2 linked regions of the Homo sapiens genome follow. The protein of the gene in region 2 purifies or fractionates together with the protein of the main gene of each other region. This does not show direct contact. Each region holds a gene or a part of one and is shown on either strand. Other genes may lie near its edges.

Region 1 (2,975 bases), on a different chromosome or scaffold from region 2:
TGGCCTTTCCCTCCTCTAAGTGGCTCTGCAGAAGGTGCTCGTGGTACTACCAGAGACTGACCTTCCCAGCTGGTGGTCTAGCTCCTCCCTTGTAGCCCTTTTGTGCTGAAGGGAGCTGACTTGAGTTCCTGGCAGAGCTGGCCCCTTCCCCCAGATCTTGATGAAGAAAAACAAGGGGAGGGAGTGTGCCACGTCTGGGCAGCAGTGGCCTTTTCTGACTTCTCTGCTGAGCCCCAAGCAAAGGAAAGGGAGCCAGAGGCCCCACTCTCCCAGCATTGACTCACAGAGCTGTGAGACGAAGCCCTTGTGCAGAAACAGGGATGGCAGGAGTTCAGAACAAAAAATGCAGTGGGGCAGGGACAAAGGGCCAGGGCCAGTGTGTTGGAGGGGAGCAGGTGAGCAGGGCCCCATCCTGGGGCAGGAACACCTTACTGCTGAGAGCTTGCAAGAGACCAAGGCCCAGCTGGGAAAAGGGAAGAGATGAACGGCAGAGGCTCAAGTTGAGAAATCCAGATTTACTTGTGGCCTTTCTCCAGGGTGCCAGAGAAGACCAGCAGGCATGGGCGGATGGGGCAGCTGTGCTGTGGGTGAGTGAGTGGGTGTAATAATACCGGGTAACATTTGCGACGTACCAGGCGTTGGGCCAAGGAGCTTGCACACGCTGCCTTGGTCCTCACAGCAGCTGATGAGGCAGGTATCACTATCTCCATGTTACAGGTAAGAAAGCCAGCTGAAAGGCAGCAGGAACTGGCACAGGGTCACCCGGCTGGGAAGTAGAGCAGGGATGTGCCCCAGGCAGTCTGATGTAGAAGCTGCCTCTAGTCTATGAATCTTTGCCTCTGATGGATCAGAAGAGGGAGTCAGGGGAGTCCTTGGAGCTCCAAACACTGCTTTGAAAGCCACCCCTCAAAGAGCTGGAGAGTTGGAGAGAGAGGCTTTGGCAAGAGCTCAATAGAAACACTGTTTATTCAAATGACAGGCAGGAAGCGGTGGCAGCAGCAGGGGGGAAAGGGCAGCCAGGCAGGGGCTGGGCAGTGCTTCCCTGTGTCCCCTGCAATCCTGCTTGGACAGCCACCCGGCTGTTGGCATCAGGGTCAGAAATACTTTCCCTCCTCTCCCTCCTGCCCCAAACTGAATAAATAGCATCCCTCTCCCCACGAGAGCTAGGGGAGACTCATGTGCTGAGTTTGGTGCCCCAGTCACAGCCCAGAGTCCGGTGAGGGCAGAAGTTCAAAATGGCTTGTAGGGAGTAGAATACAAAACTGTTCTACTCATTCTCACCTTCCTCTTCCTCCTCCCTGCCACACTCCCCTCCCAGCCTGGTCCCAGGACAGGTGGTCGGTGAGGGTCTGGAGCGGGAGAATTGTTGCCTAGCATACACTGAGCTCAAGTTCACAAGGCCATCCAGCCTGTCACCCATCCGGGTTGACCACCAAAGAGAACGTCTCACTTCACGCCACTTTATGGACATAAAAGGAGGGGCAGGGAGGGAGGCAGTGGGCAGCCAGGCCTTTCCCAGCCTCAGAGGTAACCAGAGTCCGAGGAGCAGGCCCCCTACCGATCCATCTCGTCCAGGAGTGGGGTGGCATCGCCAGCAATGGACATGGGGGTGCTTTCGATCATGGGGCTGGGGGAGGGCCGAGGTGTCAGCCGCTGCTTCTGTTTCCGCCGTTCTGCCTCCTTTTCCTGCAGCCACTGCTCCGCCATTTTTCCCCAGTCGATGGCTGCATGGCTGTTGGACCTGGGAGGGGAAGAAAAGTTGAGATTGGGACTTTGCTAGAAGGAAGTCTTCCCACCAATCACTGTACCCTTGCAGAAAGGAACCTCATACCTATGGGCAGCAGCCCCTCTACTGGGATAAGGCAGATACAGCAGCAGCTGGCTGCCATACTGCCCTCTTCCGTCTTCACCCAGAAACTAGTGTTCCTGGCATATCATGTGGTCAGGGCCCTCAGAGGATCCAGAGCACCTGCCTCTGCTAAGCCTTTCGGCCTCTTGACAACACCTGCCCCTACCACTGACCTGCACTGTGCCACCATCCAGATACTTACTTTGGCTGCTGCTGCCGTTGCCGGGAGCTGGAAGAGGGCTGGGGCTGGGCCTGGGCCGACTGTGGGGTGGTGCTGGCCTGGAGCTGGTGGTACTGAGGGGTGGTGATGGGCTGGCTTGGGGTCGTGTAGGAGTAGCTAGGGGTCATTAGTGGTGTGGCCACTGGCTGCTGGGCTGGCGTTGGGAATACCTGGAGAGGCATGAACAGTTAAATAGGGATGGGTGTGGGGCTTGTTTGGCCTTGCTGTGAATTCTGGGTAAGCGCAAGGGTGGGCTCAGCAAAGCTTTCCAGATGATCTTCCACTGAGTATGTGCTTCTGACCAGCAGTGGGAAGCCTGCAGGTCAGCACCGAGCACACAGTGGTGCCCACTGGTCCTGACCATGTCAACTTTCTGGTGGCTTGCGGGTTCCAAAGATCCCAAAGGCCCGTGGAAAGGTTATGCCCTCTCTTACCCTCTTCCCCTTCAAATGGGCCTAAGGACAAGAAATATCTGTTGGAGACAGTTACCAAGGCCGTGGCAGCCCCATCTGTGCATGTGAAGCCCCTTGTGGGCAATGCGAGAGGGCAGTCTATGGGCCCCACCCTGCACAGGGAGCTTCCTCCCCAAGCCACATACGTGGTAAGCACTGCTGCCGCCTCCACTGCCGCCATAGCCGTACTGGCTGGAGGCCCACTGGGCTGGGGTGGCATTAGGGTTCTGTCCTTGGCCTGTCACCGCAGCAATGGCACTGAACATCTGTGAAGTCATGTTCTGAGGCAGGGCATTCACAGCCCGTGTCAGATCTGTAAGCACACAGAGGTGGGGAGGGGCATGTTAGAGGTGAAAGTCCCTTTAGCTCCATCCTTCCCACCTCCAGTCCCAGGCTCAAGCTCCTCACCTGCAAGGTTGATGTTGGCTGGGGTAGCATTGATAGAGGCAGGTGT
Region 2 (3,394 bases):
ATGTCTGTGAAGGCCTCTGCCTTCCCCGAGAGGAGGCGGGGGAAGTGATTGAGGGAAGATTTCAGGTGAGTCCCCCTACTCTCCACACCCTGCCTAACGCCAGCTGTGGAAGGAGGGCATCAGGACCCCAGCCCAGGCCACAGCAGGGAGCCCAGCAGAGGGAAGCCAGGTCAAACCACAGGGACTTCTCTCAGGCCAAAGCCCCAGGAACCCTTGCTGTTGTCCTAGAACATGGTGGGATTGGAGCAGAGACCATCCCACTGGGATCCCCCAGCCCTATCTAGGCAGCCACAGGTGTCCCTCAGGAAGCTCCCCCAACACCCCTGCCACTCTGAGAAGCCAGGACAGATCTCTAAGATTGGGACACTGCCCTCTCCCTGGGCCAACCCCAGCCCTGCAATGAGGCCCCAACCCACTCTGGTTCTCACCTGGCTTCTGCCTCCCAGGGGTGGAGACTGCCTCCCCACTCTCTTCACCCCCAAAGAAGAAGCACAGCCGAGGCCGACATCAGAGAAACTGTGTTGCTGACTTAGTTGCAGCAGGAAATGACTGAAATGGGGTAACTGTCACTCACACACTCACACCTGTGCCCACACACGCACACACAGAGACCACATCCGCAGCAGGTGGGCCTGGCCAGACACCTATGGGACACTTATTGGAGGCCCAAGAATTAAAGTAAGGGGGTGACACCCAGGAGGCCTGGGAGGGGGAAAGCCCAGTGGCCTCATGGTCTCTCTCATCGAACTCCTAAGGGTCCTTCCATGGCCCTGGGCCCCCGAGGGTCAGGGAAAAGAGTGAGGCCGGGACCAGTGTGAGGAGGCCTCTCCCCTGCCTGAGCGTAGAGTCCATTCTCAACAGAGACAAAGCTGCCACGTGCAGGGATGGGTGTGGAGGCCCAGGCGGCAGGGCCCTGGGGCCGGTGTGCAGCGTGGGTGGGGAGTGACGCCCACCAGGACGGCCCCCCATGGGGGTGAGCTGTGTCCAAAGTAGCTGGGCGGCAGCTGGTGTTGATAGTGGCATAAGGGACGTGAAGAGCAGCCTGGGAGGCCTGGCTTGGTGCCTGCGCGGGGGAAGGAGGGTCAAGTGAGTCTGCACAGCTTGGGCCCAGCCCTGGCCCCCCTGCCCCTGCCCCTGTCACCTCATCCCCAAAGCAGGTCCCCTCCTCACCCATGCTCGTGCTCTCGGTGCCTGGGGGCTGGTGCGGGACGGCTGGAGCCTAGGGGCAGGGCTGGGAGAGAGCAAGGATGGTCAGAGCTCTGCAGGGCATGTGGCCATCCCAGTGTCAGGGGGACGTGGACAGGGACCAGGTCTCACCGGTGCTTATGTCGGCGCAGCAGATGAAGGAGGTAGACACAGCCAAAGAGGAGGACTCCTGAGACCCCCAAGATCCCGGCCAGGTCTGCCCGCAGAATGGGGGCAGGAGTCGGCGGGGCAGAGAGCCCTGGGCACGGAGACAAGAATCAGATGGGTGGCCAGTTCCCGAGCCCCTCCCTGCCCTCCTGGACCCCTCGCCCCGGCCCCACCTGGGTCTGAGCTGGGCGGGAGGCTCCCACAGGCCTCCCAGGAGCCCTCAGGGAAGGACGCAAACTTGCAGCAGAAGGTGGTGTTGGCGCAGGGGCTGCTGGCCCCAGAGCCTTCCAGGATGAGAGAGATGCTGCTCTGGGTTTCCCAGCGGGCCTGGCGAGCAGGGGCCCATTGCCGGATGCCACGTTCTGGGTGCAACACAGCCAGCGTGGTCCCCCCAGCACCGTTGGGGCCCCCCCAGCTCACAGTCACCAGGGAGATGGAGCCAGACCCCAGGAACCCACAACGGATGGTGAAGGACGAGAGCTCGGTGGCCTCCATCCGAACTTGAACCCACACCTCCGGGGTCCCTGTGGAACAGCAGCAAGGTCGGTGGGCTGTTGTCCTACATCACCCTCCCTGCAGCCCCTGCCCCTCTCTGGTGCCGGCACTCACCCGCAGTGACACACAAGGTCAGCAGCACCCAGGGCAGGACCAGGGTCCGGTGCCCCATGGCCCCCTCCAGTCCAGGTTCTGGGGGCTGCAGGGCCGGCACCTGTGCCTCTGTTCTCATCGCAGGAAGTCTTCATGTTGTCAGCAGCCAAACAGCCACTTCCTTCTCTCCTCTCACACCTTCCCCAGAGGTGGTGAGCACAAAGTGGCTGATTCCCTTCTTAAAGTGACAGTGAGGGCCTGCTCAGTCCCCAAGGCTGTGCTTCCAGGTAACAAGGCAGGGCGGCACAGGTGGGTGAGAACCCAGCCCTGGCTAGGCCTGGGGAGGCCAGGGGAGGGGCAGAGAAGCTGTCAGGGGCTAGAAGGACTCCCCTTCCCTGGACAGCAAGGGGTGCCGGGCTTCCCTAAGAAAGGGCTCTGTCCCGCCCCTCACCCAGCTAAGGAATCGGAGGAGAAAGCCCCTGGGAGTGGGAAGCCAGCAGGGAGGACCTGAGAGCCAGCCCAGCATGCATGACCCACTACCAATCTGATGTGGGTCCCACGCTTACACCTGCAATGCAGGCCTCCCCCACAACCCCCAGCCTGGCTCGCCCACTACCCACTCATACCTCCTGATCTACCCTGAACGCACCCCATACTGGGCTCTGCCCCAGGCGCTGTCTCCTCGTCATAGGTGATGGCAACTGGCTTCTGGCTGCTCGGGCCCAAAGCACAGCCACCAGTGCCTCTTCCCTTTCACTTCCAACGCACCAAGATTGTGTCAGCAAACAGCAGTCCTCTGCCCTAGCAGTGCAGAAGCCAGGAGTTGAACCCATGTCTCTCACCAGGTTAAGCTGCCTCGCTAAGTTTGGATGTGACCTCAGAAACAGAGGCTACTCCAGCAATACAAGATACTTTATTTTTCGGCTTCTACCTATGCCACCCAATCCCTTCACTGGGCCTAACTTAGTGAATCAAATTAAGTATATTTCCCTCCAAGTTGCCCCAGGATTCTGGGCTCCTTTGCACACTACAGGTTTTCTCTAAACGCCCTGGGTTTATCTATCCTTTGGTGAATTTTCAACTCTTCTTATTTCTCTGCCCTGTCCTGACCAAAAATCTTCAGTGCCTGTTTCTCTCTGCCATCCAAATCCCACACACATCTAGGGGTGAATCGGTGAATCTGCGCTGATGAGTGACACGTTTTGTGAATCCTTTCTAGGATCTCAGTATTTCATCCTATCCCGAGGGAAGGCTCTAAAGAGCTCAAGGAAGACCTCACGATGTCTATGTGTGAGAAGAAACCTTTCACCCCTTCACTATCACACCCCATCATCCAAGCACACACTCCTCTTTCATCCCATAAACCCCAGTCAGTGTCACCTGGAGTTATAAGGATGCGGTGACTTACCTAGTAACGGAAGACTCTCAGTAATCTGAAAAAGAAAAATCCCTT

What was found.
Region 1: the proteins of PVRIG (region 2) and SUPT6H purify together in Homo sapiens (affinity purification with mass spectrometry; 3 studies listed by BioGRID and IntAct, with this or other methods). This does not show direct contact.

The regions. Positions count from the first base shown.
Region 1 is NC_000017.11:28,700,205-28,703,179, reverse strand, and holds the end of SUPT6H (transcription elongation factor SPT6), read right to left. Parts: coding exon 2,930-2,975; intron 2,835-2,929; coding exon 2,668-2,834; intron 2,240-2,667; coding exon 2,052-2,239; intron 1,742-2,051; coding exon 1,555-1,741; 3' UTR 501-1,554; downstream 1-500.
Region 2 is NC_000007.14:100,218,597-100,221,990, reverse strand, and holds PVRIG (transmembrane protein PVRIG isoform 3 precursor), read right to left. Parts: upstream 2,021-3,394; coding exon 1,963-2,020; intron 1,878-1,962; coding exon 1,527-1,877; intron 1,445-1,526; coding exon 1,318-1,444; intron 1,232-1,317; coding exon 1,171-1,231; intron 1,064-1,170; coding exon 740-1,063; 3' UTR 501-739; downstream 1-500. Other genes in the region: STAG3 (cohesin subunit SA-3), read right to left, coding at 3,318-3,374. UniProt on the Homo sapiens protein: Cell surface receptor for NECTIN2. May act as a coinhibitory receptor that suppresses T-cell receptor-mediated signals. Following interaction with NECTIN2, inhibits T-cell proliferation. Competes with CD226 for NECTIN2-binding.